2 separate regions of the Homo sapiens genome follow, and region 2 is linked to region 1. The links come from fine-mapping of genetic effects on gene expression. A gene starts in region 1. The other region holds a variant in brackets. All regions are shown on one strand. Distances are between the middles of the regions. Region 1 holds the start of LINC02609 (long intergenic non-protein coding RNA 2609). Region 2 has its middle 140 kb from the start of ZNF326.

The links. PIP is the estimated chance that this variant, and not a neighbour inherited with it, causes the effect.
Region 2: its variant is fine-mapped to the expression of LINC02609 in tibial nerve (GTEx, PIP above 0.99).

What each region holds. Positions count from the first base shown.
Region 1 is chr1:90,843,146-90,859,741 of GRCh38, forward strand. LINC02609 (long intergenic non-protein coding RNA 2609) reads right to left here and starts at 8,493. Exons shown (of 3, transcript NR_135038.1): 1 at 8,338-8,493. It overlaps LINC02788 (long intergenic non-protein coding RNA 2788), which reads left to right. Exons shown (of 4, transcript NR_186594.1): 2 at 2,509-2,654; 3 at 4,911-4,976; 4 at 5,844-6,327. It overlaps LINC01763 (long intergenic non-protein coding RNA 1763), which reads left to right and starts at 8,614. Exons shown (of 2, transcript NR_146610.1): 1 at 8,614-9,134; 2 at 11,083-11,754. RefSeq lists an enhancer at 7,538-8,038 and silencers at 7,822-7,941, 8,232-8,631.
Region 2 is chr1:90,128,829-90,145,424 of GRCh38, forward strand. No RefSeq gene overlaps it. Among named protein-coding and RNA genes, the nearest start is that of ZNF326, 140 kb to the left of the region's middle. RefSeq lists an enhancer at 3,438-3,939. The variant A/T (reference allele first, on the strand shown) is at 6,746.

The DNA.
Region 1 (16,596 bases):
TATCAGTTCCTATTTAATATGTTTAAGGCTTACCACAGTTAGGATTTCCTAACGTTTTAAAAACCAGTGTTCATATACATAATCAGTGTGATTTTCCTTAGAAACAGAATTATCTACCATGTATTCTCCCATTACAAAACTACTAAAGACAGAAAAAAAAGAGAAAGGTAGAAAATGTGAGACATTATAAATTAATTCCTAGTATCCAAAACTATTTCCTAGGTTTGTTTTTTAATTAAATCACTTCTAAACCCCAGGAGAGAACAGAATTTCACTATTATCAAATAAATAAAATCATCAACATTACTATTTTGCTGGCAGCATCCTCGCCCTTTGCCCCAACCCCTCTTGGTGTTACAATCCTAACTGCAAACTCCATACAACGATAAATGATCTGTACTTATGTCTTCCTGAAAACCAGTGGTTGGAACACACTTGATCTGTATTAATAATAGGAAGGGGGAAGGGGCTTTTAAAAGGGGCTATTTTATAAGTTGAAGCAAATTATAGGGCTTATTTAGCATCAGAATTACTTCTCACCTTGTACTGTCCCTGAATGCTGAGTGATCTCTCTTTTCCAAAGTTGTGGGTCTATCCTAGTTTTATTGTAGACAATCAATACTAAATATTAGGAATCTACAAACAAAACAAACAAAAAAGCTCCCCCCTACTCCACACTGCTGAGCCCTAAATTGCTTTTATGAAAATAACTTTAAAAAGACATTGGCCAGGTCTACTAACCCTTCCACCATCCTCATCTAGACCCTGATCACTTTACACATAAAGGAGTGAGTTTCTTCCTTCCTCAAATACAGCTTTCAGAGTGCCTTAAGATTAACTATCCTAAACCCCTACTTTGCCTTGGTAGTTCTGATTGCCTATAACAGCCCCAGCTTCTTTTTTTTTTTTTTTTTTTTTTTTTCTGAGACGGAGTTTCCCTCTTGTTTTCCAGACTGGAGTGCAATGGCACAATCTCGGCTCACCACAACCTCCACCTCCCAGGTTCAAGCAATTCTCCTGCCTCAGCCTCCCGAGTAGCTGGGATTACAGGCATGCACCACCACACCCGGCTAATTTTGTATTTTCTCCATGTTGAGGTTTCTCCATGTTGAGGCTGGTCTTGAACTCCTGACCTCAGGTGATCTGCCCATCTCAGCCTCCCAAAGTGCTAGGATTACAGGCGTGAGCCACCGCTCCCGGCCAGCCCCAGCTTCTTAAATTGGCTTTCAAGCCTCCTTCCTACCCTCCCCATAGGCATTAATTAGCTGTTCCTGGTTTGTTTTCCACTACTAGCCTACACAAGGCCAGACAGCTCTTCAGGCAGACAGCTCTCTCTTTGTCCGCTGAAAACATCATGTGAATTGTCTTTATTTTACTGAAGATGCCAGGCACCATGTTAGGCATTACAAATATTATCTTATTTAATCCCTTCCATTTAAGAGATGGGTATAATTATACCCATTTTAAGGCTGTAGAAGGCTAAAGAAGTTAAGGTACTTGTCCAACTAAGGTCTCACAGCAGCACTAGGATTCTTACATCTGGCTCAAAAGCTGGTATACTTTCCACTCCAGCATACTCTCCCCCCTGCTATGCATGTGCTGTGTGTTCTGATTCCTCCTTCCTCTTGTCATCTGGATGATTTCTCAATTTCACTCCATATATCTGACTCCTGTCCAGTCTGCAAATCCGGAGAGAAACTCCCACCTCTGTCTTGAAACCTTTCAACCATCATCCTAGTCCTTGGCAGACTGCTGAATTTGTCATCTGCAGCACTCATTTGGTGCTCCCATTTTCTGCCTTGTATTGTCAGCTTTATTTTTATTCAGTCCCTTCCAACCAAACTGAAAGCTCCTTGAAGATGGGAATTTGCCTTATATTTATTTATATTCCTCCCTGACTCCCCAGAGCCTAATATTACAACTCCCGTTTGTCATACACTCACCTCATGCACACTAATCCTTAGAAGTGAGCACTGTTATTACTGCCATTTCGCAGATAAAGAAACTGAGACTCAGAGAGATGAAGAAATTTGCCCAAGCCACTAAGCTGGTGAGCAGATCTGATGTTCAAACACATACTGCCTGAATCAAATGCCCCTTTTCCTTTGTGACTGTATTGTCCTGGCTCACATACATGGTCCCTCACACAATGTGAACTTATGAAGCATTCCTGTATGGAGGATACTCAACAAGCCTCCAGAAAACATCCCTCTAACATGACTTCAGAGAAGGGGCATTGTTTTTACTCTTCATGAGGTGAAATCCGGCAACTCAACAGAAGAAAGGATGAGTATATACCCACCTGAGGACACCCACATCCACTTCCCCCTCCTCTCTAGGAGCCATGCCTCATGTTGGTGGGAGCCAATGATGCTGTCTATATCTGTACAGGGGTTTCTGTGAGGTAGAGAGGCAAACTGCCCTTCCCCCTTAATCCTCTGTACCTTTTAAATACACAGAGGAAAGAAGGAGAAAATTAAACTGTTAATTTCTTTTAATGGTCTGCAGGGTCCAGAGAGGTGGGGTCCTGCTGTGTCTGCAAAAGAAATGAATTGCTGCTGTGGGAAGAATAACAACTGTTTTTAGAAAATGTTCATAGCTGACCGATTAAGCCAATCTGTAGAACTCAAGTCAGCTTCTTCTTCTCCTTTAAGGTATGAACATGGCAATGGGGATTAATGAAATCTCTAAGAAAAGAAGGACCATTGGGAGTACAATAATCAAGGCCTAGGAGTCTGGTCAATTTTCTCCACAAAGAAAGTTTGTCCTTTCAGTGCCACTGCTGCAGAATTGAGCTTGATAGTATAAAGGGGGCTATCTTAAGGTTACTTTATACACAACAGGTCTTCAGGAAGTGTAAAAACAAAATCTCTTGCAATGGCAACAGGGTACTTCCTATGAATCTGAAAAAGGAGTAATGACTATACTATCCATTTGTCTCTGGTATCCACGCTAAAACTATTCTATTCTCCCAAGTTCCCACAGGTGGGTTTCTAGCTTTCTTTATATTTTGGTTCATATATTTGGACAACTCCAGGGCTATAAGCATTACCTTCACCTATAAAACCTGCATTGTAGCACACAAAATCCTGCGCATGCACAGCAAGTGTTTCATTTACTTCATCTCAGATAAGGCACAAACTACCCTGCAAAGTAGACTAGTAGATATTACAATTATATACATTTTGCCTATGAGGAAAACTAAAATTTGCCTCAAGAAACATAATTGGGACATGATAAACCTAGTTCCCACTCCCAGTCCAGGACTCTTTCTACCACTTCTCAATTCTCATGGCAGTCCTCTACCTTTTCTGTACTCTGGATCCACATGTGAATTTTGGAATCTAAAGACAGGAACCTCTCTCTTTAAAAGAGATGGACTTCAAATTATACTCACCAGGCTTCTATTACAACTACCTGGACCATACTGAGAACTACCCTCTCCCCACTCCTGAAGCTACAAACACTATACACAAAATTTAATATTTAGACTCAAATTTTAAAATATTTGCACGAACTCTTAAATCTATAGAAGCTGAGCAGTCATGGCTGGGTGCGGTGGTTCATGCCTGTGATCCCAGCACTTTGGGAGGCTGAGACGGGAGTATCACTTGAGCTCAGGAGTTCAAGATCAGCCTGGGCAACATGGCAAAACCCTGTCTCTACCAAAAATACAAAAAATTAGCCAGGCGTGGTGGCACACAGCTGAGGTCCCAGCTACCTGGGGAGCCAAGGTAGGAGGATGACTTGAGTCTGGGAGGCGGAGGTTGCAGTGAGCTGAGATCATGCCACTGCAGCACTTCCCGCCTGGGTGACAGAGTGAGACCCTATCTCAAAACAACAACAACAACAACAACAACAACAAGATGGGTAGTCATGATGGTTAGGCTCCCCATTTAAAAAGGAAGGCTAAAATCACTGTTACTTGTTTTTCCACAAGTACTATTTATGGATAGTTTGCCAGATAACTGATACTCCCTTCAGATAACTGATACTCCCTTGTACCCCTAATTTTATTTTTTTCTTTTTTTTAGGTGGAGTCTCACTCTGTCACCCAGGGTGAAGTGCAGTGGGACGATCTGGGCTCACTGCAACCTCCACATCCTGGGTGCAAGTGATTCTCCTGCCTCAGCCTCCCGAGTAGCTGAGATCACAGACGTGTGTCACCATGCCCAGCTAATTTTTGTACTTTTAGTAGAGACGGGGTTTTACCATGTTGGCCAGGCTGGTCTCAAACTCCCGACTTTAGGTGATCCACCTGCCTCGGCCTCCCAGAGTGCTGGGATTACAGGCATGAACCACCACTCCTGGCATCTAACATACATTTTAAGAGTCATTCTGTCTACCTAATGGACAAGCAGTCCGGTGTCTTTCCCCAGAAAAGATCTAGAATTGGGTCTGTCCACCTTGTTCACTGACCTTTTTAATTAGGTGTGTAATCTTGGTATCCAGGGCCCAGCAGGTTTTCCCTTCCCCAATGTCTGGACAATACCCAAGTTCATCAAAGCAGAAACAGGACTCAGTTCCAGACCTTATACCTGGCTGAAAGAATGATATTCTTTTTGTCTCAGCTCAATCTTGGTTAATCTCCATATGCAATCTAACTCTGGAGTGAAAGAGAGGAATGACTCTACTTGTTGCTTTGGGACGACTGCCCTATTTCTTTGTCTGCTGGCTGACCTTCCCTATGTAAGAGCATCAGCATTTGCAACATTGGGTTTAAGCAGGAAAGCTCTTTCATCTTTGTCCATTGGCCTTGATCTCTCCTGATCAGTATGGTCTGGATTCTTGCTAATCACTAATGATCCCTTGGCCCTCTATATAATACTAAAGGTATTAGACTTGAACTGTTAGGAAAATTCCTACTCAGCTAATTACATTCTTTCTGCTTTTCTTGGTTTTCTGTATAGTCTCAGCTGGAGTTGAATTTGAATTATTTCCTCAAATTTTAAATTGCTGGTTTTTGGAAAGCAATGGTAAGTTGTTCCCTCAGATGAATACAACTAATTATAATTAAAAAGCCCCATGACTAACCTCTTTCTCCCCCATCCCACTCTTTTCCTTGGATGACTTTCCATACCATCTCCCACATTCTGGCCTTGAATATTATAATAAGAGCTTAGTTCACTGGGCTAGGAGTTTCATGATTCTGTATTTTGTAAAGCAGGTTGAATATTATTCACTTAAAACAATATGGTGGTTCCACTACACATATGCTTTTCAGTCTGTATTTATGATCAACTACTAAAAATGACAAGTGTTTGACCTCACAGGTTAGGCCTCACCCATAGGCTAGGAGAAGGGGAAGTTTTTTGTAATAGTCAAAGCCTTGCTCACCAAATAGAATACAAGTTATGTTTGATTTCTTAAATGAGTATGATTCTTTAATATTTCAAGGAATGTGGAATGCCAATCCTGTGGAATTATATAGGGCAACCCTAATTTTAGCCACGACATCTTGAATGTTTCCCACCCAATTCCATATTCTAGAACTTAGCTTTTTAAATCATACCAAAATTGTGCACTCAAAAAATTTAGAATCAACCAACCAAACTCTTGACAATATAACTTTTTGAAGTAATGTCTTTATCATGCATACCAATGCACTATACATGTATATGATTGTTAAGTTAGTAATTCATTGACAATCAAAGAGAATGTGTAGCACTTTTCTTAAGGCTGTCCTTTAGCAGCTACTCTTATTCCAGTGGTGCTGCCATATGTTAGTATGATGACTTTATAACTAGTTAAAAAGTCATTGAGGGAAGTCATCTAATTTTCTTTCAGCTTGTTTTGACCCCAAATTATATTATCCTGACTTGACCACCCACCTTATTCTTCAGAGCACTGAAGGATGCTAAAGGAAGATGGCTTGCCACCTCCAAGGCTCTTAAACCAGATGTGCTGTGGGTTCTGAAAGCAGTGCCCAACAAAGAGCTCCAGAAACGTTTTGAGCAATGGCAGCAATGGAAGCACCTACACAATAAGTGACAGCCTTCCAAGATGACTTGATAGATGAGAACACACTAAAATGTTTGTGTAAGTTCTGGTGTAGTTGTTAACATGCAGACATTAGTTAGACCTTGGTTATACCGTTTCAGCCCTCCAGCTGAGAGTTAGGGACAAAATTATTCCTAACATATTGTACTTCAAAAAATGGTACATCCTTTAGGTGCATCTTGCAGATTTCACACAAAATGTTTTAATATTTAGGATCTAGATATTGTTTTGAATGATTTCAAGCATTATCCAAGAAAGATGAAAACTATAACTGAGATAAACATATTGAGTATGTTTTTATATTTTTATTAAACCAATTAATTTTAACCAGGTGTATGTATGACTACTTGGGATGCATTTTGTTTACTTAATTGTAGACAATTCTGACTTAAGATTGGGGGGAAAAAAGGTACTGTATGTGGTCTTGATTTTAACTAGAAATATAGTGCTTTCAACTCAAATGAAACCAGCCCGTCCAGTATACCAAATAAGGAGCAAGACCTTTTAAGGATTATTTTGCTTTCTAAAGTAATTAAAAGAATATCCCCTTCAATCATGTATGCCCTTTAAACTTTGCTTAATGAGTTTTAAAGGAGAAAAAAAAAAAAACATGGTACTGTGTGGTACTGTGAATACGGCACAATCTGGAGAAAACTTTCTGATTCCTAATTTATTTTTTTCCCTTGACTTTCTACTTAAAGGTAATCAACACAATTTTCCATTTGTATCAAAGAAAGGCCACAGTTTTTAACTCTTTCATAATAATGTTCCTTGAGTTTCTTGGAGCAAGGAGAAAATATACATATTTTAGTTACATTTCAACAATTACTTATTAAAGGTCCATAGGGATCATGTTCAATGGCAAAGGGAAGTGGAGGACCTATAATAGATAATGAATAAATACTTATTGAATGGATGGATGGAGGAAAAGAAAACTGTATCTTGGGCCCCATATGGAGTTCACTATAAAATTAATTCCCACAGATTAGCCTCCCAAAGTATTTGGTCCATGTAAATACAACTTCTGGCTATCATATAATATTAAGCCTAAAGCATCTGCTTAAATTTGGACTTGATTTTTCCTATTATTCCAGTTTTAGAAAATGTTTGGTCACATAAATAGAGCTCTCTCACTAACTTACTTGGACTATTTGGTTACATAACATCTCTGTTCCTCAGTTTATGTCAGAATGGAAATAAGACAAAAACCTCCTCCTTCCTATAGGGACTTTTTTGAGTACCTTGATAAATACCTACAAAATGATAAATGCTACTACCTCTTTCAACATTTGCACGATGTTAACTAAACACAAAATATTTTTAGTGTGTGAATTAAAATGCCTCTTTTACTGATGGCTTCAGATGTTTCCTTGTAAGATACCATGTCAAGAACTGGTTTATAAATTATCTGTCCTTCCAGAACGCACTGACATCACGCTTCCTAATAGCTTGGTATGATGACTGCTGTCAAAATCGCCTGCATGGAACCATCCCTGACCTGGACTAACAGCATGTATTAGCGTGACAGAGACTAAAAAGCTAAGAACCGCCGTGCGATGGCCGGCTTTGGGCACCGGGGGTGGGGGCTACGCTACGCGTGAAGGGCCTCAGTCCTCGGGCTTTAGTTCAGGAAGAAAATGAAAGCTGGAGGTCTCGTGGGCGGGACTGGAGGCGGCCAGATAGGCAAGAACCCGCAACAGGAGTAGGGACATTTTTTCTTCAAATTCCAATCCCATCCAGCGATAGACAGGCGCGTGGGTCTCCCTCCTCCACGACCACCACACAATGGCACACACTTTTGCTGGAAACTGAAATCGAAGTCTCTGAGGCAGGCTGGGGCCCAGGCCGGCAGCGGGGAGGGGCAGGGTCCAGCCACCTCGGCGTGGCCTTGGCGAGCGCTCCGGGGTCAGAGGCCGTCGTTCTCGCCGCGCTCCACAGCGCGTCACCCGCTGCCCTAGCGACCCCCGGGCGACCCCGGCATCGCCTGGCTGCGCCGTCCCGGCGGGCCGGCCCTCTCCACGCCCTCTCCTGGGGTTTGCGGTGGGCACAGCTCCCTCCAGACTGGGTCTCTCCACTAGCCTCCTCCCCAACTGCAACGTGGGAACCAGAGCTATCCGAGTCACGAGCCCCAAGTGCACACAAAGCCCCCAACGGGGCCACGGCGCCTCCACGCCTCGCTACCTCCAGCTCCAGGAGCGCAGAACGCAGCGCCCTGGGTCACCGCGTCTGCCCTGCGGAGCAGCCCCACTGAGGGGAAGCCTCGGGCAGGAGGTGAGACCCCGCGCACGCAAGCACCCCCGCCCCAAGCAGGGCCCTCTGCCCGAGGGAGACTCTCACCTCAAATAAACGGGCGCTGCCGCCTCCAGGGGGAGGACAGCGGGCGGAGAATACTCACGCTGGGCCCAGCCGCGCGGGGACTTCGCTGGGAACCACGCGCGGGCTCCCGCCGGGGAGCGGAGCCCCAGCCTGCAGTCCTGCGCCCGCCCCAGCACCGCCTCCTCGGAAGGGAGGCCTCTACCGTCCGGCGGCGGACCTGCAGCCGCCGCGGGAGACGCTGCCCCGCCCCCCGGCCCCGCCCTTCGGCCCATCCCCGCCCCGCTGGCCTCCTTTTCCCCTGCCCCCTCCCTCCGCTCCTCAACGCCCGCCGGGTGCAATCTGCTCTCTCCGGGAGACGAACGCGAAGCGACGTGGAAACCCTTCCACCAAAATGAGCTGTGATATCCTTTTGATGGCTATAATTTATTCCAAATCGTCCCTGGACTGAAACGATCAATTAGCAGCCCGAAACGCACTGTGAAGTAAATTGTCACACTCTCTATTACAGGATGGTTATCATATATTTATAAGGTGTGTTTTCTGCAATCAGAACCAACAAGGTGTTGAGCGATCAGTCATAAACGCACTTCTTCAAAAAGAGAGGGAGAGAAGCTCAGCATTGTGTGGCGGGGGAATAATCCTCATGACAGTTCTCTCCCCACCCAGTGATGTTTTGTCTTGGCACCTGGGAAGTGCAGTGAGGGCTGGAGCTCTGGACGGACTCTCTTCGCCACGCGTGCCCCTGGAAGCAGGGTCCCTGTGAACTACGGAGAGACCCCAGAGGAGAGATTTCCTTATTGTGTAAACACAAATCAGTCGTAAGGGCCGCTCCCTCTGTCTTTCTCTGTCTTCTCTTGTATCCACGAAAATAATATCTTACTCTTTGCTTCTAAGCTTCTAATAGAATGTTTGCATCCTACACTTAATGATAAGTATTTTTTCTTCTTCCTCAGGTCTCAAGGTGTTGACCTCCTCTCTTGTTATTTAATTGATGATGTTCGGTAGAAATTATGTCTGGGTGATATGAAGTTTACCCACAGAGAGAACCCTGCTTTCTGAATTGAAATCCTCAGCAGAACTCTTCCATCATTCATAAATGAGATAGCCCAAAGTTCTAAGAAAGTAATAAGAAAGGGCGATTTAGGCCAGGCGCCGTGGCTCACGCCTGTAATCCCAGCACTTTGGGAGGCCAAGGCGGGCGGATCACTTGAGGTCAGGAGTTCAAGACCAGCCTGGTCAACATGGTGAAACCCCGTCTCTACTAAAAATATAAAAGAGTAGCCGGGCATGGTGGTGCATGCCTGTGATCCCAGATATTCGGGAGGCTGGGGCAGGAGAATCTCTTGAGCGGGGGAGATGGAGGTTGCAGTGAGCTGAGATCATGCCACTGCACTGCACTCCAGCCTGGGTGACAGAGTGAGACTCTGTCTCAAAAAAAAAAAAAAAAAAAAAAATACTGATTCAGCCTGGTAGCTATTTTGACTGGACCAGGCCATGGAGACATTGTTATTTTCCTTCTCAGTGGTCAGGAATATACATCTGGAACTTCTGAGTTTTTCCCCTTACAAACTTTCATCAGATAGTCATCCATGAACCACCTATCAATCATTTTTTAGAAGGGTTCTAGTTTGCATCCAAGTGATATTCCTTTTGCCTGAAAAACATAGCTTTAGAGCCTAGACTACTGGTTATTGATTGTGAAAAAAATTTAGCAGCTAGAATTATGCCTTTGTAGTAATAAAGTGACATTCATGCAGAGTGAATCACAAGGTGTGAAGGTAAGATGCAGAATTTATACCACATTCTTCTTAGGTTAAGTGCCCCCATGACTTTTGCATGGGAGGGCTTATCTGCAATGCCAACCCTTGAAGAATGGGGAGAAAGGAAATCTCGTTGGGTATTTGAGCTGTGGAGGCAGCTGTTGCCATTGGGCTTTCACCCCCATCCTCACAGCATAAATGAAGTACCACATTCCTCTGTCAGAAAGCAATGGGGATAGGGAACCTTGCTTCATCTGAGGACTGGCATAGCAAAGAGCCAGACCCAGCACCTTCACCTTGTGCCTTCCAATATTATTGATTTAATTTGCATTTAACAGCTAATATTTATTGAACATTTACTCCATGCCAGGCACTGAGCTTTAAACTACAGATGCACCTCAATTTATGATGGGATTGTCCTGATAAACCTATTGTAGTTTAAAAATATGTTAAGTTGAAAGTACATTTTTGACTTACAATATTTTCAATTTATGATGGGTTTATTTGAACATAACCCCATCATAAATGAAGGAACTTTTGTACCATCGTAAAGTTGTAAAGTAGAGAAATGCTAAGTCAAACCATTCTAAGTTGGGGACCATCTGTATGTGTATTATCTTATTTAATTATTTCAACAATCTTATTGGAGAAGGTTCTTTATTTTGCCAAAGAGAAAACTGAGACCTGGAAAGATTAAGTAATTTATGCAAGACCACCCTCCTAGTAAGTGATGACTTCAAATCCAAGTCAGTCTCCAATACCCACACTCTTCATCCCAATAATATAATACTTCAGAAATTTGAGATTTTGATTTAAGATTTTTTTCCACCAAAAAGATTTTAGTGGAGCTGATGATACAATGAGAGTGGTAAATTCTGGGAGACGATTGAAAGAACAGCTGTTTGCAATAGAAAGCCACATTGGGTACTTACACAGCCCCTCCCCACCTTGGTAGATTACCTCTTCTTTGTTCTATCCTTCCTACCCTTCGTGATTTCTTTTTCAGAGTTACACCTGCCATCTAGCAAAACAGACCTCACCCAAGGTCAATGATGGCTGCTAACCTTGGGGTTGATGGGGGAAGGTGGATGCAGCAGACCCCAGGGAAAACAGAGCACCGTGAGGAGGAGCCAGAGGAGGCCGGAGGCCCTTGTCTCAGACATCCAGCTCTGAGAGTGAAATGTTGCTTCCTAATGGACTTTAAATTACCAACATCGCTAAACTCTCTCTTAATAGACTTGTAAAGATTTGCTTGCTACCTTTTTCCTCCTTCATGTAGAATTTGTAATCAAGAGCCCAATTTTGTCATTTGGAAATACTAATTATCTAATCACGGCATGCTGTATAACGTACTTGTCTGCCCAATTAGCTAGGACAATTATTAAAATTCAGAGGCCTAATTATGTCTCAATTTAATGCTGGCAAACTTGCATACAGAGCAGTAATTAAAATCCTCTCTTTCCCTCTGCCTTTAGGGCAGGGGATGATTAGGCCCTGTCAGGGGGTGTACTGAACCAAACCAGTGAAGCGTATTGTGCAACATGACCCTGCATTGTTAAGTGTGTCAACATATTAACCTGAATTCCCTTCAGCCCCCACATAATCACATTTGGTGGAAGAATGAAGGAGCTAAAACATGAAGCATTTTTTTAAAAAAACATAAATTCATTTTAATTAATGCTGTGAGAGTTCTGGTGAATTTCACGTTTCCAAGTGCTGGAAGACGTAAGACTGGTTCATCTAATTACTAGCAAATTTGTTCTTGTAAAAACTACTTTTTTTACTCATTTAAATAAAATAATTTTTGGGGGTAGCATTAAAAAAAAAAAGCCCTAGTTAGCTTCCAGTAATACAGTTGATTACCAGCTTTGATGATGGAACACAAGTGAATGTTGACTTCCAAAAGATTCAAACCCAAGACTGGAGGCATTGAGGGGAAAAAATACTACAATTTAATACTTGAAAGATGTTAATAAAAGTCGAACATTACAAATCATAATATTGAAATAAATTCAAAATATTTATCTTTTGAGCTCTTAAGTTTGATGTCTGAAATTGAACCAGGGTGAGAAGACCAGAGCATTGCACAAATTCATGATGCTTTGCAAGCTCCAGATGGTGTGTGTCCACCTTGCCAGCATCTAAACCACCTTCTCTATGGAGTAAGGAGAGCCACAAAACCCATTAAGACTCCTGAGCTGTCCTCTAAGTTCTGGCTTTCACTCATGATGGTCTTTAGAGATTATTCATATATTCAGCTAAGGAAGGACAACATTTAGTCTAGACCAAAAATGAATTATTCTGGAGCAGAACTTCTTTCAATTGCTTCCCAACTTCTTGCTGTATGGATAGCTTCCACAGAGTAAGAGACACACAAATACACACTCATGCACACTCGCACAGTCCCTTACTTGGACAGAGCTTACTCTCATCTCAATTGATCTCTTTTTCTTTTATTTTTTTAGATGGAGTTTTGCTCTAGTTGCCCAGGCTGGAGTGCAGTGGTGTGATCTCGGCTCACTGCAACCTCCACCTCCTGGATTCAGGTGATTCTCCTGCCTCAGCCTCCCAAGTAGCTGGGATTACAGGTGCCCACCGCCACACCCGGCTAATTTTTTATATTTTTTGTAGAGACCCCGTTTCACCATGTTGGCCAAGCTGGTCTCAACCTCCTGACCTCAGGTGATCTGCCTGCCTGGGCCCCACAAAGTGCTGGGATTACAGGTGTGAGCCACCACGCCCTGCCAATTGATCTCATTTTTAATCTCATGATCACCTTGTAACACATGTAAGGCAAGCATGTCTCCATGTTAATATGGGGCAGTTAATATACTTGCCCGAGCTCACCACTCCATACTCTTACTTCTTGGTTGTAGGCAGGGTAAGACTAGACTCCGTTCCCCTTGCTGCCCACTGCATCAGACAGTTAGCTGTGGATCAGTCACCAATCAGGGAGGCTTAGTTTGGTTAAATATGTCATGTTGAGATCGAAGTATAGATAATGTTATAAACAATGAGACAACAAGGGGACAGCCTATGTACCAACACCAGAGGACCTCCTGTCCTCAGTCAATACTTACTTGCAACATGTTTAGCCATATTTGTTTAGATTTGATGCCTCTGGCCCATTTTCTTCCTCTTTAAGCTTTTATATTTCTCAAGTTTTATATAGTTTCATCTGGGCCAGTGATAGTAAAATTTGGGTTCCTTCCTCCTAATCTTGCTGTGGTACAATGTGGTGTGTTTAGGGACAATTCTGGCTGGTATATGCTCTCTTACTAACAAAGGCAGTGACTACAGCTATCTCTATAAGAGATGGTTGGCTGGAGCCAGGACAGGCCCTTAGGCACTTGTGCTACAAAACCCGGGGGTGGTAGTCCTCCCTCCACACCCGCCACTACCCCCCACCCCCACCTCCCAGGGAGTATGCCCTGTGTCTTGAAAATGGCCTTGCTCTGAGCCTCTTTGGATGGCAAACTGAAGTGCAAATCTGTGTTCTGACTTGTTCCCGTGGCTGTCAGCATGTTTTCCTCTTGTCAGCAGCAATTGACTGGTCAGGCTCACCCCTGTACAGCAATTGTAACAGCTCATTGACAGACTAGTGACCCAGCTGGACCTGATAATGGAAAACTATTGATTTTTGTGGGCTCCACGAATCTAAAATGAACGACCGATGTAATGTCATCAATTGTCTCGGACTCTGATAACCCAGGGGGAAAAAGTTTCAGGGATTGCTTGTATTTCCTGACAATAGTGTTCCAAAATCTCACTGAGCATATGTAAGAAGAAGCCCATTTCTTAGATGGGCTTTAAATGACCCCGATTAGTCCATCAGGGTTTCAACGCCGAGGCTTGCATGTTAAATGAAGTGGAAATTAGGATTATCAATTAGCAGAACTGAGACATAACGTACAATTTAGGAAAGATATTTGTGGAGAAGCACTTTGAGAGGAAAATGTTTAAAATGTTTATTATAAAACAAGCTCACAGGAAAAAAAAAAGAAGAAGCTGGGAGGAAACCAAAATATATAGGCTCTCCAAGAGCCTTGATGTATGAAATTGTGATAGAACTATGAGGCTGCTTTGGCTTGCCTGTGTTGATTTATTGGTAGTAGAAAGAAAGGCTTGAAAATAATGTAGAGATGCCTTAAACATGTGTTGCAGGAAATAGCTATTTAGTTTTGTTTTTTAAACAATTTTCTCCTTACTTGATCATTTAAAAATCCTCAAACATTGCTTAGTGTGTTTTTTAGAAACAACAGCATTTTTTTCTTGAGCCAAATTAGCAATGGGTTGGAGCTAATTTTGCCCAGTGGACAGGTCTAGAAAATTCTGTACTCTATGCTGAATTCTGATAGATAGGATTTCCCTTAATGGCCTCTGCCAAAGGGAACTTGATTAAAAAAAAAAAAAAAAAAAGGCAAGGCTATTGATCTTGGCTGCCAAACTGATACATTTAGTTCACAATCCACTTGTAGTGAGGACATAATCATCTTATGGTCCTGATCAAATTCAGACATTCTTAGAACACAGTTCTGAAGGCTAGACAAATCAGAGAACACAGAAATAACAGGGGTGCTTCCCCATCCATTTTATTTGCTCAAAGAGGGCTAGAAATCTCAGTAAGGGTCCAGAAAGAACAGGCCCCAGAGGAGATGAATCTATGTGTGGCTGGACTCCTGTTCACAGGATGCTGCCATCTTCACACTCTCCTGTCATGGTCCTTCTCTGGCCTTTGATTAGCATCGCCCCTTACAACACTACACCTCTGGTTTTCTAGCACTATCAAAACCAGCTTTGCCAATTGTTTGGCTGGCTACCTATTAGTAAAGACACACAAGGTTGAGGTTGAGACCTGAAAGAAAATTAGGCTAGGCAAAAAAAATTGGTATTTGGACTTTAATAAATAAAAAAGGCTTGATGCAGAGAACACAAAATTTGCCTGATGCTGTGTGATGTGTCTTATGGCCCAGCCAAGGCATCAACAGGTCAAAGGTCAGGAGTGAGGTCTTATATGTTTTGGAATTCTCTACAGTGGTTTTCATCAGGCCTTGCATGTCACAAATATATAAATAATCATTGAATAAAGGAGCAAAAAGGCTATTTTTAAGTATAGAAAGATGAAGGTAACATTTTCCAGTGTATAATAGATTTGGGAGAAAATATTTGCAATCAGGGTTTTCCATGTGCAGGCTCATGCCAGTCCATGAAGGAGTTCACCTGTCTGTGGTAAATATAAATAAATGAACAAAGGGAAGTTAACAGGATTTTATAAAGCAAAATTTAATCTTTTTAAAAGTCCGAGATTGGCTGAGCACGGTGGCTCATGCCTGTAATCCCAGCACTTTGGGAGGCCGAGGCGGGCAGGTCACCTGAGGTCATAAGTTGAAAACCAGCCTGGCCAACATGGTGAAACCCTGTCTCTACTAAAAATACAAAAATTAGCCGGCCGTGGTGGCATGTGCCTGTAATCCCAGCTACTCAGGAGGCTGAGGCCGGAGAATCACTTGAATCCGGGAGGCGGAGGTTGCAGTGAGCCAAAATCGTGCCACTGTACTCCAGCTTGGGTGACAAGAGCAAAACTCTGTCTCAAAAAAAAAAAAAAAATTCCAAGATTATAGTCTTTTGAGATGTTAAACATTTTCTTTTATAAATAATGATTATAATAAATTAATAGCTTTACTTGGCAAGGCAAGATTAAAAGTTGGCAAAAATCATACACTGGTCCAATACCTTAAAAATTACTTTTCTGTAGAAGCCAAAGAATGGGTGCACTAATCTAAATACCTATTGTGCCTCTTATTAATATTAAGGCAATCCCATATGACTGTCAACAAATAGAAATATTCATGATTAAGGCACAGCATTAGATGTGATAGGTGTAACAGCACTGGCCTAAGGTCTAGTCATTTGGAGCTTCTTTTAGGTTTTTGGTCTGTATTCTATCTTTACAAATTATTAAATTATTAAAAAATTTTAATTTTTAAACCCAAATCTGTGATTTGATTGAAATGCTGAAAGATGCGATATTAGTCACCATACTTTTAACTTCAAGATACTCTTTTCTGATAACACAATTCCTATCTTCTGCCCTATGCAATGTCAGGTCTGTTCCCAGCAGCAGTTCCACAGTAATGATGCCACTTGGAAGAGAAAACAATTTTGTTTCTTTGGGTTTTAATTTGATGTGTAAAGTCAAAATTTTAACTCAGAGTATGTGTTTTGCTGTGCTTTGTAACTTGCACTAAAGATTTAAATGTATTAAACACATTCCTTGCAATAACTAATCATAAAATTACAGTATTTATTAATAGAAGATTAATAACTCTGGACCCAGTTTCACCTCCACATTTAACATCTTCCTCTTGTATCTTTTGGAATGCTTTCAGCTGCAGGTAAAAGAGGAATGCTTTGTGTTACTTCACAAAGCAGGTCAGAGATCTTGTGGTTCTAGGATTGATTGATGCAGTATCTCAGCAACATAATCGAGGACCCAGGTTTTTTCCATATTTTTCACTGG
Region 2 (16,596 bases), 710 kb before region 1:
TGGAGAAGTGTCAGTGCCAGGTCCCTGTGTTGGATGTGGAGGCAGAGCCCGCAGGTCATCTTTACTCCACTCTGTGATAGCTCTCATCCCTGGACATTCACCCTTTCTCAGGCAGCCCACCATTCTCACTCTTCTGTCCCTGAGTTCTCAGGGGAAGGCATGTTTCCTGTTGCCAGTATGTTGCTGCTTAAAGATTTTCCAGGATTTAAGTGTAATCCCCAAGGTGTTGTTAAACACACAGCACTAAGTGCAACACTGGAGGGAGGCAGTGGAATTTAAGTTTCCTCTGAGATGATCACTTTTATTAAAGGAGCTCTCTCACCCAAGGAAAGAAAAAGAGCGACAGTAAAGTACCAACTGTGGTTAAATAAGAGGTACCCGTATGGACTGCTTGCCAAGAATAGCTATAGAAATATCAGGAAATAATTTTGGGCACAAGAGGAACAGGCCAAATAATTAAAAGCACAGATTTGTGATGCCACATTTATTAGGATTCTTTGGGGCCCTTATTCTGTAGAACTCTTGGTTTGAAATCTGTACATGTTACATCATTTCAGGAACATGGAGGAGCTAACATGTAGATTAAAATGCCTGATACGTTGTCAGGCATTATAACAAGGAATAATATGTAGGGACTGGGGTGAAATGGCAGAGTTATGGGAGCAATGTATGGAGAGGAGTTCATATTTCATTAAAATAAGTTTCTAGATGTTTGAGGTGGATGGAGTGAGCCTCCAAATGATCCTAGCTGGGATGAGAACTCAAATATAAAGATAGACAAAAAACTTAAGATTCTTTGAATTGAAGGATGAGGAGTTCCAATAGAAGTGACATGAACTCATCAAAAAATCTTGGAAAAGCAGGACTAGTAGACACCCTCCTTCAAATGGAGATGAAGCAAGTTGCAGTAACATCAAAAGTTAATGTTAAGCATTGAGTTTCCAAGTCCAGGGAGCGATAATAGAGATAACTTCTTAAAGAGGTATAGATAAATTCATGGTTGGTAGGTTCATGAAAACTATTTAAAGGAAATATTGATGTCTGTGATTAGTCATAAACCTTTTGATTGATATCAGGGAGGACGGTCTTTGTCTGTCTGAACCATACACTTATTGCCATAGTTGTAGGCTTTTTAAAAAAATTCATAATAGTTTTCTTTTCACTTTGGCTGATGAACTCTTAAATTAGGCTTTACAACCCATCTCAGATTGCCTTTGCAAAACTATCTGGCCTCCTTATTTCCTGAATAGTTGTCCACTCTTCCTTTTCTCTGCTGCCTTGTCATGTACAGCTCTCTATGATGGTATGCATACTGCAGTCTGATTGTTTGTTTACTTCTTGCCTCACTCTCTTGCTTGACTGTGGGGCCCCATCTGCCATCGGTGTTGAGCATGTTCTAAAAAGGAAGTCCAGTTTTCAAGCTAAGTGGCTAAAAATCTTTTTTTTGAGACAGAGTCTTGCCCTATTGCCCAGGCTGGAGTGCAATGGCACAATCTCGGCTCACTGCAACCCCTGCTTCCTGGGTTCAAGTGATTCTCCTTTCATAGCCTCCTGAATAGCTGGGATTACAGGCATGTACCACCACGCCTGGCTAATTTTTTGTGTCTTTAGTAGAGATGGGCTTTCACCATGTTGGCCAGGCTGGTCTTGAACTGACCTCGTGATCCACCTGCCTCGGCCTCCCAAAGTGCTGGGATTTCAGGGGTGAGCCACTGCGCCTGCCCAAAATTCTCTTTTAAAATTCAGTTTTCCAGCCATTTTTGATCCAATGCAGTGCTTATATTTTCTGTTGAGTGAAATAATTATCTAAGGCAATCAGTTTGTTTTTACTGTTTTTTAAAGAAAAAAACAATACCTCAATGATTTATTTAGGGTTTCTGCAAAATATTCCAAATGATTGCTCAGATTGTCCCCTTCTCCCTATATCCTTTAAAAATATTCCTTCAGAATCCAGGAATTTTGAATTATGTCACCCTCTTTTCCTAAACTCTAGGTGCTTCCCATTATCAGTAAAGTCAAACTCTTCAGCAAGACACTCACAACTCCCCTGATGTGGCACCCACTAACTTCATGCCTTCTTTGCCACCACATCCCCTGGTGTCACTGTTCCAGGCATGTCAAATCACTGAGTCCCTTTTTGTTCTCTTGCCTTTCTTATTTCATTATCATCTGCCTGGGCTTTCTTCCTCCATCTTCCCTTATAGCTAAGTGCAAGTGTTATCTCATCTGTCCCCCATATCCATCCACTCTTAAGGTGATTGTATCTCTAGTTAGCATTTATTTTAAAAATGCTTATATGTCTTCTTGTCCACCAGACTAAGTTCATTGAGCCTTTGAAATCCCTAGCACAGTGCCTGGCACCAAGTTGATGTACAATACATTGATGGTCTTTGATCGATTGGCTCTAAGGCAGTCTTCAAAGATGTATGACCAAATTCCAAATACTGAGAAGAAGAGGTTAACAATATTAGGTTGTAAACAGACTGAATATCTTCCTATTTCATTTCCCTGCAAGAGTGAAGGTGAAACAGATGGAAATGTCTGTATTTAAAGGATGTTTCCATAAATTATTCTGTGTAAAAGACACCTAGGAGCCCACTCAGTCATGAAAACTCAGGCCATTCTGCCTTTGTTTTCATTGATTTTTCAGTTATCCTGTCACAGCCAGGCACAAAATAATGCTAACTAGATGAGGCTTATCTAAGGACACCTTATTAAGAAACTAAAAAAGGACCTTAGAATGTGTAAAGGCAATGCAGAAGCCTTAGGAAGGGGAGAGAAAACGTATTAAGTGTTTTTCAGAAGAGGTAGTTGAAACAGTCCTGAAGCACCTGAGAAAAAGTTATAGAGCATTATTTATCTTCCAAGATGGCACAGCATCTTGAATCTGCCTTCCACTATCAATATTAAAGTTACTCTTTCAGTAAGGAGGTCCTTAGTACCTCTTGTGTGTCAGTACCCTGGCAGGGGCTGGGGAAATCAACACCATCTCTGTCTCCAGGGCACTTGCAGTCTGAGGAGGCAGGTGTGTGGTTATCACACAGTAGGATGAGTTCAGTGATAAGAGAGAGGCAAAGAGCAAAAGGGGCCGTGCACACCTCTGACTGGGTGGGTCTGAGAAGGATTCATACAGACACTTGATTTAATCTTGGTAGATGAGTAGGTGTTCACTGAGTTTACCTGTGGAAGGCATTCCCAGTGAAGGAAACAGCCCATGCAAAGGCATCGTAGAATGAAACCTCAGGTGATGTAGAGAGAAAGCTTCAGGTTACCTCATTTTCCAGTGCATAAACGTTGTGATGTAAGCCCTTCCCCTGGGGGTTGCTGCAACTGGAGTATGACTATGGATCTAAGTGTGGCTTACCCTTATGTCTTTGGAAGCACTGAACTGCTTTGCTTCCCTTTTTTTTTTTTTTTTTTTGGAGGAGTCACCTACTCCTAATCAAGATTAGAACTTTCTTAGATGTTCCCATTCTTACTAACTAGCATTCTTATTAGCAGAAGTGAACAGATAGGGCTTGGGCTGACAAATGGAGGGGCTGACTTGCTTGTTGAGAATCTTCTCTAATGTTTCCTGAGCAAACCCAGCCAGTGGGCAGTGGCAGGGGATGCTGCAGCTGTGTGTGGTTTGTCTACTTGAGACCCATTCTGGCCCTGTTTAAGGAAGTTCTGTTAATTGCTTCAGTTCCCCAGGTGCTCTATCCAGTTCAATAGCTCTGCAGCCTTGGGGGATATCCTGGGGAGCTTCTGATCAGTGGCAGTGGCTGGGATCTTTGAACCTGCTGTTCAGCTGTAACTTTGGCAAAATATAGACCGTTTGAGCAGGGAGAGTTGGCATGTAGAATTAGAATTTTCCACTGGAATAGTCCAAACAGAGGTAGGCAAGAGAGAGAAGAGAGAAAAAGGGCTGGACTCTTAAAAATTAGTGCACTGCCTCATTGCTGTGTCTCATTTTCTCTTTTCTCCCAAATATCCCTTCCCTAGGTGCAGCAAATCAGTGCCACATCCAGTCAATTATGAAAAGCCAAAAAGGTCTTTTGTCTTTTTCTCTGCACATTTGGATAAAACATCTTTGTTTATGACTGCGTAACATCATTTCACCTGGATTTAACAACAGTAATCTGTCATATCTGGAATTAATTTTGATTCATGGCCAAGTGCCCTTATAAATCTACTGATGAATTTTCCTGATGTTTTGAGTGAGTAAGCTCATTGTTGGGCTGGGCACGTGCTCATTGGCTGCAGCTGTGAATTCCATACCCAGTACATCCTGTAAATCTGGCGTAATCTGTAAAATAAATGGCGAGCCAGATTCTCAGACTAGCAGAGCTAGAAGTGACAGGGCCACTGCATATAATCTTGCAATCTGGGCACTGGAAAACTCTAGGGGGAGCCATTGACACATTTTATGATGTAAATGGTGCCCACTAGGGTTAATTAAACCACAATCTTCTCTTTCTCAGAGTCTAAGAGTTCTCGGGCCAACTTTTCAGTCACGTATTTCCTCACTTTTATTTTTTCTGTTTTTCATCCATTCCTGAGGCCAGCTGAGGTTTTTACATGTTTGTACTTGGTTGCTGGCATGGCATAGTATTGTATTTGTCAGGGTAGACTAGGTTGCATGCACTGCAGTAACCAACTGCCTCAGCATCTCAGAGGCTTATGTAACAAAGGTTTATTTCTTGCTTAGTCTTCATGCCCATTATTAGGGCTGTGCATTGCTCCAAGTCATCCTCAGATCCAGGCGGATTTTTTCCTCATAGAGGACAGGGTGAACCACACACTTTCTTTTAAGGCTTCTGTTTGCATTCCATTGGTTAAAGTAGTTCACATGGCTATGTTAGCTTGAAAGAAGGGCAAGGAAACATAACCTTATATGACCCAAAGGATGGGCCCCAGATCACCTGTGAACAGCTCTAATGACGGCCACAGGTGTAGTGGAGAGGAATAGTGAAATCATGGATTTTGAGCTTAGTCAGAAGTTCAAATCCTGGTTCTGCTTCTCCCTGGATGTTTAGTAACTTGCAAGCAAGTTGTGTAATCTCTCTGTGCCCCAGTTTCCTTACCTGTGTAAGAGAAGTTACTAGTATTTTCTCATGGATGATGGTGATATGCCAGTTTTGTAGTAAGGGACCCTCAAAATTTCTTTTGTGTCTCTCTGCCCGCTCTCCACCTAGGGTCCCCCATAGTGCCTACACTTTGTATCAGTCTGCTTAATAAGGGGAGATACTGTCCCTGTCTCCCAGCCAACAAACAAGAAAGCCCTGGTGACATTTGCCAAAGCTCATGAAAATAGCTATTAGGAAGGCAAACTGTGCTTAGAATAATATTAATTGGACTTTAAGCTCATTAGGAATTAAAAACAGCAACAAAATTTTCACCTCTAGCATAAGGGGAAAAAAATCCTTGAGAGCCACATAGCTCCCCACTAAAATGCATAGCTGCTGACCGTCTGTAAATGCCCAGAGGATTCTCTTTGCCTGGCTACAGAGGTTCAGGATAACATAGCAGATGCGAATGACTTCAGGATACCTTTCATGCTTGGCAGGCGTCCCCATTTTATTTATGATATCAAAGCTGCTATGCTGTGTTCTCTTCTGCTGAAGACATAAAAGAGATTCAGAAGTCATCCAAATCATCTTGTAATTAATGTTACCATGCACGCCCAGGACATTAAAATGTTAACAGTGTTAGAATCGTGTGCTTTGGAATACCGAGTGAGGGCTTTATTAGAGAGAAATGCTCAGCAGATGTCATCCACCCTAATTGAGGACATCAGGGTGCCTGCTGCTTGTTCTTATCAGTGGTGCAGAGTGTTTTTTTTTTAATTTATTCATTTTCTTTACTGCTAGAATCTGCTCTCATTATTAGACTATCTTGTCACTCATTTGCATTTCAAGTGCTGGGACTGGGGGGGAGCAGCTATCTGCCTTAGAAGAACACTTCAAGGGTTACTCTATCAAATAGCAGCACTGTAGCACAGTGATTCTGACATCTGGGTTATCTTATTCCCAGATGCTCTGTGGTGTCATTAGCAGGATTAATCTTAGCTTTAATTTCATAATGATTCTTATTCTAATATATGTGAATGAACACAAAGTCTCTTGACTCATTATCACCAATTTACCCAAGATATGTAATCAGGCTCTTACATTCACCAACATTTATTTTTGCTAATACATCTAAAATTGTAGATTAAGCAAATATAGTTAGTTCCAGCTGAGTGAATGCCTACCGAGGTAGCACTGTAGTATTTATGTTTTAATTAAAGTACATTAATGGCGTTGTTTTTTAAATATGTACTGACCAGAAATGTGTTCACGGGGAATAGTAAAGTCGTTGTTCAAGCAGGGTCCAGCTGTAAAATTAGTCACAGCAGCATTACATTAGAAGCCACTACCCACTTCTTTTTCAAATTATTGAAATTCCCTTTGCTAATTAGGTTTTTAACCTTTATAAACAAGATGGAGATACACAGCCTTAATTCCAAACAACTCTGCTCCCCTAAGGAAACAGAACGGCAAGTCCTTAATGGTGAGTGTAATTGCGATAAGCCTTGTTGTTTTCATTCCCATTCAAGGTTAACTTGTCACATCAAATATTGTCACTTTTAGTTTATGATCCAGGGTTGGCAACAAACCATTTCCCCTATCATTTGACACTGAGTGTGGTCATGTACTAGTGGGAGTGAGGGGGTGGGAGAAGAGATGGTGATGCAATAGCAAATTCCAAATTCTTCCTTGTT[A/T]ACTTCAACACTGGACTCACTTTTTTCATTTGCCAGATGTTGTCGCCCAGCAGCATGTAGTGCTTTATTATTGATGGATAAAATGTTCAAACATTTAAAGAAATGAAAGTCAGCTTTGCATTTTTAATTAATTAATTAAAAGTACTGTAAATGCCAGCTTGTTAATTGCTTTGCACCTGCAAGCCAACACAGGTTTTGTGCACTCTTTCTTTGAATATTAAATTTTTTCTCGCATGTCTTTGTAATGCTTGGGAAGTCTCTCCAGCAAACATATTAGTAAAGAGTAAATATTGAATCTTAGACAAAACTCATGGCTTCATCTTTCACTGTACCCAGAATAGGATTTAAAGGAGGATTTAGATTTCCAAGGCTTCTAATTAAGTAGTGATAATCAGGCTTTCTGCTGAGGGTCACTTCCTGGGAGTAATTTGAGTTATTAAAATGCATGTTTTTGTTTGTTCTGCTTTGCGAGCTAAAACCGATCCCTTTTAATATAGCAGCAAATATGCAAATTGGTGTTTCATTATATTGTGCAATTTATGGCAATCTTCTCTAATTTATTGAAAGGTCAGGAGCCTGACCTTGTCATTCAAATTTTTTTTTCTGGTAAAGCTAAACTAATTATGTGGATTTTAAAAAAATTTATGAAACTCTGAAAGTGTGCAGCATGGTAAAGAATGTGACAAATTTAACTTTCATTTAGCTTTCATATTCATCAAGACGGCCTTCGGTTTTATTTGGATCCTAGCAGGGAAGAATAGGTGATTTAGGAATCAGTTGGTTTTAAGTACTGAAAAAAGAAGGTAAAAAAATTCTTCTATCTCAGAAAAACATGGCAGCCAGAATAGCTTAGCCTTACTGAAATAATTAATGTGTACATGCTTTAAATTGACATTGGCCAGAAAATATTAAAAAGAATGATCACAGGCTCAACAGCTATGTATCTTTGCTCTGTAAAGAAATGAAAGAAATGGGGAAATATAAAATCAGTGCAAAGATAAAAGTCTCATCAAACAACAAAAAAAGAACAAACACAATTGAACACAAGATCAGGGATACAGCGGTTAGAAAATCACCCAAAATAAAATAAAAAAGAAGAAATAAAAATGAATAAGGAGTTTTATTGTTTATGGTCTTTGATCCATTCTGAAGTAATGTTTGTATATGGTGTTAGGTAAAGATACAACTTCATTCTTTTGCATGTGATATCCAATTTATCCAGCACCATTTGTTGAAAAACCTGTCCTTTCCCTATTGAATGGTTCCTGGCACCATGTCAAAAATCATTTGACCATATATATGAGGGTTTATTTCTGGGCTTTCTATTCTATCTCATTGGTCTATATGTCAGTCTTCATGCCATCACCACACTGTTTTCATTACTACAGCTTTGTAGTAAGTTTTGAAATCAAGAAGTGTGAGTCCTCTGGCTTTGTTCTCCTTTTTTAAGATTGTTTTAAATATTTACAGTCCCTTGAGATTCCATATGAAATTTGGGATGAGTTTTGCTATTTCTGCAAAGAAGTTCATTGCTATTTTGATAGAGATTGCATTAAATATATAGATCATTTTAGGTAGTATCGATATCTTAACAATTTTAAGACTTCCGATCCACGAACATGGGATGTGTTTCCATTTATTTACGTCTTTTTAAATTTTTTTCAGCATTGTTTTGTAGTTGTCATTGTACAAATCGTTTACCTCCTTGGTTAAGTCAATTCTTAAGTATTTTATTCTTTTTGATGTTATTGTAAATTGGATTGTTTTTGTAATTTCCTTTCCAGATTATTCATTGTTGGTGTATATAAATGCAAATGATTGTTGTGCATTAACTTTGTATCCTGCTACTTTGCTGAGTTCACTTACTAGTTCTGTATATTTTTTGTGGAATTTTTAGGGTTTATCTACATATAAGATCATATCATCTACAAACAGAGATAATGTTAATTCTTCCTTTCCAATTTTGATGCCTTTTATTTCTTTTTCTTGTCTAACTCCTCTGGCTAGGATTTCCAGTACTGTGTTGAATAGTACTGGAGTTGTGAAAGTGAGTGTCCTTGGTAAAACTCTTAGAAGAAAACATAGGGCAAAATCTTCACAACACTGCATTTGGCAATGATTTCTTGAATGTAACACCAAAGGCACAGATAACAAAAGAAAAAATAGACAAATTAGAATTCATGAAAATTTAAAAAATTTTGTGCATCAAAAGACACTATTGATGAGGTAAAAAAAGCAACCCATAGGCTGGGTGCAGTGGCTCACTCCTGTAATCCCAGCATTTTGGGAGGCTGAGGCGGATGGATCACCTGAGGTCAGGAGTTTGAGACCAGCCTGACCAATATGGTGAAACCCTGTCTCTACTAAAAATATAAAATATTAGTCGGGTGTGGTGGCATGTGCCTGTAGTCCCAGCTACTCAGGAAGCTGAGACAGGAGAATCACTTGAACCTGGGAGGCAGAGGTTGCAGTGAGCTGAGGTTGTGCCATTGCACTTCAGCCTGGGTGACAGAGTGAGACTCCGTGTCAAAAAAAAAAAAAAAAAAAAAAGGAACCCACAGAACAGGAGAAAATATTTGCAAATCATATATCTGATAAGGCATTAACATCTGGAATCTGGAATATATAGGGAACTCCTAAACTCAACAACAACAACAACAACAACAGCAACAAAAAACAAGCAGGTTCAAACACAGGCAAAGGACTTGAATAGACATTTTTCTAAAGAATATATAAAAATGGCCAATCAGCACATAAAAATATGCTGAGCATCACTAAGCATTAGGGAAATGCAAGTAAAAATCACAATGAGTTACTACCTGACATCCATTATGATGGTGCTATGTGCTAAAAGCAGAAAATGAACTTGGTGAGATTGTGGAAAAATTATAATTCTTCTGCTCCATTAATGGAAATATAAAATAGTACAGCTACTATGGAAAACAGCATGACAGTTCCTAAAAAAAATTAAAAATAAAATCATCATGATACCCAAAATAATTGAAAGTAGGGTCTTGAAGAGATATTTGTACACCCATATTTATATCAGCATGGGTCACAATAGCTAAAACAGGGAAGCAACCTGTGTCTATTTATGGATGAATAGAGAAGAAAAATATGATATATCATGGAATATTATTATTCAGCATTAAAATGGAAGGAAATTCTGACACATGCTGTATTAGTCCATTCTCACACTGCTAATAAAGACATACCCAAGACTGGGTAATTTATAAAGGAAAGAGGTTTAATTGACTCAGAGTTCCACATGGCTGGGGAGGCCTCACAATCATGGTGGAAGGTAAATGAGAAGCAAAGTCAAGTCTTACGTGGCAGCAGGCAAAACAGCTTGAATCAGGGAACTCTCCTTTATAAAACCATCAGATCTAATGAGACTTATTCACTATCACAAGAACAGCATGGGATAGACCCGCCCCCATGATTCAATTGCCTCCCACCAGGTCCCTCCCACAACACATGGGAATTATGGGAGCTACAATTCAAGATGAGATTGGGGTGGGGACACAGACAAATCATATCATTCTGCCCTGGCCCCTCCCAAATCTCATGTCCTTGCATTTCAAAATCAATTATGCCTTTCCAACAGTCCCCCAAAGTCTTAATTCATTTCAGCATTAACTCAGAAGTCCATAGCCCAAAGTCTGATCTGAGACAAGGCAAGTTCCTTCCACCTATGAGCCTGTAAAATGAAAAGCAAGTTGCTTCCTAGATACAACGGGAGTACAGGCATTGTGTAAATACAGCCGTACCAAATGGGAGAGAACGGCCAAAATGAAGGGGGTACCGGCCCCATGCACGTCCAAAATTCAGTGGGGCAGTCAAATCTTAAAGCTTCGAAATGATCTTCTTTGACTCCAGGTCTCAGATCCAGGTCACACTGATTCAAGAGGTGGGGTCCCACTGTCTTGGGCAGCATCTCCCCTGTAGCTTTGCAGGGTACAGCTCCTCTCCTGGCTACTTTCATGGGCTGGTGTTGGGTGCCTGAGGCTTTTCCAAGTGCATGGTGCAAACTGTCAATGGATCTACCATTCTGGGGTCTGGAGGACGGTGGCCCTCTTCTCACAGCTCCACTAGGCTGTGCCCCAGTGGAGACTCTGTGTGGGGAATCCAACCCCACATTTCCCTTCCACACTGCCTTAGCAGAGGTTCTTCATGAAGGCCTCGCCCCTGCAGCAAACTTCTGCCTGGACTTCCAGGTATTTCCATACATCCTCTGAAATCTAGGTGGAGGTTCCCAAACCTCCATTTTTGACTTCTGTGCACCCACAGGACCAACACCATGTGTAAGCCACCAAGGCTTGGGGCTTGAACCCTCTGAAGCAATGGGCTGAGCTGTATGTTGGTCCCTTTTAGCCATGGCTGGAGATGAAACAGCTGGGATGTAGGGCACTATGTTTGGAGGCTGCATAAACAGGGGGGCCCTGGGTTCAGCCCACAAAACCATTTTTTCCTCCTAAGCCTCTGGGCCTGTGCTGGGAGGGGCTGCAGTGAAGGTCTCTGACATGCCCTGGAGACATTTTCCCTATTGTCTTGGTGATTAGCATTTGGCTCTTTGGTTACTTATGCAAATTTATGCAGCTGGCTTGATTTTCTCCCCAGATACTGGGGTTTTCTTTTCTACTGCATTGCCAGGCTGCAAATTTTCCAAGCTTTTATGGTCTTTCACCTCTTGAATGCTTTGCCACTTAGAAATTTTTTCTACCAGATAACCCATATCATCTCCCTCAAAGTTCCACAGATATCTAGGGCAGGGGCAAAATGCCACCAATCTCTTTGTATAGCAAGAGTGACCTTTACTCTGGTTCCCAACAAGTTCCTCATCTCTATCTGAGACCACCTCAGCCTGGACCTTATTTTCCATATGACTATCAGCATTTTGGTCAAAGTCATTCAACAAGTCTCTAGGAAGTTCCAAACTTTCCCACATCTTCCTGTCTTCTGAGATCTCCAAGTCTCTAGGAAGTTCCAAATGTTCCTACATTTTCCTCTCTTCTTCTGAGCCCTCCAAACTGTTCCAACCTCTGCCTGTTACCCAGTTCCAAAGTTGCTTCCAAATTTTGGGGTGTCTTTACAGCAGTGCCCCACTACCTGGTACCAATTTACTGTATTAGTCCATTCTCATGCTGCTAATAAAGACATGGGTAATTGATAAAGGAAAGAGATTTAATTGATTCACAGTTCCACGTGGCTGGGGAGGCCTCATGAGGAGCAAAGTCACATCTTACATGGAAGCAGGCAGGAGAGCTTGTGTAGGGGAACTCCCCTTTATAAACCATCAGATCTCATGAGACTCATTCACTATAATCAGAACAGCATGGGAAAGACCCACCACCCCATGATTCAATTACCTCCCACCAGGTCCCTCCCTCAACACGTGGAAATTGTGGGAGCTACAATTATTCAAGATAAGATTTGGGTGGGGTCAGGGACAAACCATATCACATGCAGTAATATGGATGAATCTTGAGGATACTGTGCTAGATGGAGCCAGATATGAAAGAACGTATATTACATAATTCAATTTATATGAGGTACTTAAGAATAGTAAAAATCACAGAGACAGAAAGGAGAATGGTGATTGAAGCAACTGAGGTCAGGGAGCATGAAGAGTTATTGTTTAATGTGTATAGAGTTTTAGTTTTATAAGATGAAAAAGAGTTATGGAAATGGATTGTGGTGACGGTTGCACATTATTAATGTATGTATTTAATACTACTGAATCATATACTTAAAATGGTTAAGAGAGTCACTTTTATGTTTTGTATATATTGCCACAATAAAAAATTAAAAAAATAAAAGAAAAAGAAACAGTGACAGATAAAAATGACAGATAGGAATATCTAACATGTATGCAATTGATTTTTATAAAGAATAAAATAGCACTAATGAAAACATAAAATACTTACAGATAATATTGGAAACAGGCCAGGCACAGTGGCTCATGCCTGTAATCCCAGCACTTTGGGAGGCCTGGGGGAGCAGATCACTTGAGGTCAGGAGTTCAAGCATAGCCTGGCCAACATGGTGAAGTCCCAGCTCTACCAAAAAAATCCAAAAAAAAAAAAAAAGAGTTGGCTATGGTGGTGCATGCCTGTAGTCCCAGCCAGTCAGGAGGCTGAGGCAGAACTGCTTGAACCTGGGAGGTGCAGATTGCAGTGAGCCGAGATCGCACCACTATACTCCAGCCTGGGTGACTGGGTGACTGGGTGACAGAGCGAGACTCCCTCTCAAAAAAAAAAAAAAAAATATATATATATATATATATATATATATATATTTTTTTTTTTCATATATATATACACACACATATATGAACATATATGTATATATGTTCATATATATATACATATATATATATATATATATGAAACTTTCCTGCAAAAAAGACTTGACTCTTTGACTTGGCTCTTGAAGATGGCAAGAGCACACTGTGACCCAGAAAAAGCCTATCATGATCAAGCCACATTATGACATAGTTTGGTGGCTTACTTAGTATTATTGAAAAAGATGGAATCCCTTGGCCTCCAGGTAGAAAAAGCATGGCAGAAAGGGAAAGTTCCTATCTGCAAGAAAAAAGTAAGGAGTGAAGGCAAGTTCACCTGGCCTCATCTGTGTGTTTGTGTAATTTGAAGTTGTCTTATTGGTAGAGTCTGGATTTTCACAGCTCCTTCATGGCCAGCAGAGCATGAGAGGAAGTGAGGGCAGAGCAAAGAGCAGGAGCTGGGATGATCACTAGCCCAAGGGAAAAACAGAATTCAGAAATCTGCTATTTTTTTTTTAACAAAGACATTTATTTTGGAGAAAGGATTGATTGTAGATTTTGAAACTATTTTTATGATGTTTTCTCCTCTTGGTGCCAGCAAAAAATGCAACTTTTCTAAGACTTTGAAAAGTTATTAGTAAACTGCCTGACATTCCTTCCTGATATCCTTATAGGTGTAAATATTTACAGAACTGGGAATGATCCTAATCCAAATCCATAAAATTGAATAACTTTTTTTCCAGTTTCTGATCAACATTAAATACATTAAGTGTACTCAGAATCAATGTTTGATTGTGATTAATGTTGATTTTATTAATCTTTAGGAAATAGATGATTTGTTTACAGATCACTGGTTTTAATAAGAAAAATAAATTCATCCTCCTAAGTCTCTGCATTCTAGTTTTTAACTTTGAGTTCTGCTTCTTCACTCTGGTTGTTTTGAGTGCTTTGTAGCATTATCTTACAGTTAATACCTTAAAATACATTTGTTCCATCAAGGGATGCAAAGCCTCATTTCCCTTTTATTTATTTATTTATTTATTTATTTATTTATTTTTGAGTCAGAATCTCGCTCTTTCTCCCAGGCTGGAGTGCAGAGGTGTGATCTTGGCTTGCCGCAACCTCTGCCTCCTGGGTTCAAGTGATTCTCCTGCCTCAGCCTCTCTATTAGCTGGGATTACAGGTGCCCACCACCACACCCAGCTAATTTGTGTAGTTTTTTTGTTTTGTTTTGTTTTGTTTTGAGATGGTGTCTGATTCTGTTGCCCAGGCTGGAGTGCAGTGGTGTGATCCCGGCTCACTGCAAACTCTGCCTCCCAGGTTCAGGCGATTCTCCTGCCTCAGCCTCCTGAGTAGCTGGGATTACAGGTGCCTACCACCACACCCAGCTAATTTTTGTTTTTTAGTAGAGGCGGGGTTGCACCATGTTGTCTAGGCTGGTCTCCAACTCCTGACTTCAAGTGATCCACCTGCCCTGGCCTCCCAAAGTGTGGGGATTACAGGCATGAGCCACTGCGCCCAGCCTCATATCTCTTTTAGATGTCTCTTTTTGAAGCTTTTCCCATTTCTCCTAGAATTCTTGCCTTGATGTCATATTCTATTAATGAGTAAGAGGGGAGCTGGCATTTGGATGAATGCCAGTAATGCAATGAATTCTTTCATCCCTTTTCAGTCCTCCTTCAGATACTAAGTTATTCTTTTCCAATGTCTTTATCCTTTTAGGGTTTCCTTTAATGTTCTTATAACCAGAATTTTCATGGCGTGAAAATACTGATGGTATAAATTGGTGAAGGAAGAACATATGGCCAATGGCCATGCTGGCTGAGTTCCCATTAAGATCTACATAGATAATAAGAGAGATGTCTGAAATCCTGTGAAATATGACTTAAGCATTATCTGCCCACAAAGGTATTTTAATCTCTTAGAACTCAGCCTCACAATGCCTCTTAAGATGATGACCTTTGAGTGGTACTCCTGCTCTGCAGAGGTGAAGATGTTTCTGAACTGTTGTCATTAAGCTAATGACTTTGAGCTTAACTGACTGGAAGAATCTTTGACAAGTAATTTTAATGGAGAAGTCCATCTGCCAAGGGGTGGACCTTAAGTTAATCTCTTAGTGTCCTTTCCCAAGGGAGTCAATTTCTGTTGCCTAATGGGCAACTGTTTATCCTTGATTTGGGCTTTTTTGAAGAACTTGATACCATAGGACAGTGTATGTGTGTGCTTATATTCTACTCAGTCTACCAAAAACTTCAACTCATGCTCAATGCTTGGCACCCAAGGCCTAATCTCCTGGAAAAATGTGATTTAATGTCATTATTATTATTTTTCAAAGCTCTTGAGCATAACTAAGCTACTGTTTGCCTTGTTTTCTAGCACTCCACATACTAGCTAGGGCTGGTGAACCTAGTGTTAGGAATTCAGGCAGCTCTGAGGCTTCCTTTGGACTGTGTTGGCTCACTCCTGTGTTTCCTTGACTAACAGTGCAAAAGGATCAAGAAAGCTCTCTCCATAGGAAGTTTACTAGCAAGAACAGTAAATAACCTCTTAGGGCCTCAGATGTGCCAAGACCTCACTATACCACAGAACTTGTACTAGAAAAGAAAAAAACTGGGCGCCCTTTCCATCAACTCAGTGAATGGTGCCACCATCCACCAAGCCAGAATTATCCTTGATTCCTCTCTTGCCCTCATCACTCATATCTAAGTTACCACCAAGTCCTTTTGATTTTACCTCAAAAATGTCTTCTCCCCATCTCACTTCTGCACTCCAGTGCCGGGCTCTCATTAGCTCTCATTTGGATTATTGTAATAGTTTCCTGTTTCCCCGCATCCACTAATTTCCTCCTCCAGTCAATTCTCTTCATAGTAGCCAGCGCAATATGAAACATAAATTAAATGATTTCACTCTCCTGTTTAAATCTCTAACAGTTTGCAATTCCCATCAGAATAAAACAGAAGTCTTTATCATGACCTTCAATGTCTTGAATAATCTAGCCCCTGCCTATCTCTCTCTCGGCACACTCCAGTCACACTGAATTCCTTTTGATGCCATGAGCACATCAAGCCCTGTCAATTCATTGTATGTGCTGTTTCTCTCTTCTGAAAATGTTTTTTCCCAAATTCTGCATGGATGATATCATCTCATTTTTCAGGGCTTAACTTAATTTGCACATATTTTGTTAAGTGTTCCCTTCATATCCTTTCTAAAGTAATTGTATCCCACCCCTTTTATTCTCCACTCAGCCCTCTGTTTTTTCTTTCTTACATCTTTAATCATTTATAATAATTTGTTTGTTTATTTACTTTTTTCCTCTCTGGAGAAATCTCAAGAGCACTTCAAGAGCAAGTACCCAGTCTGTCTTGTTTTGTTCACTGATATACACCCAGGACTTTTCACCCTGCCCAACAAATAATGCATTCATGCAACAAATATTTGTTTGAATGAATGAACAAATGAATCTGTTCTTGCAGACCATGTATGAATGTAGAACCCTTGCCTGTTGCACATGCACATGTTGTGCTCCCTTTTCACTTCAGATTTTTAAAGAAATACATCATATTTGGAA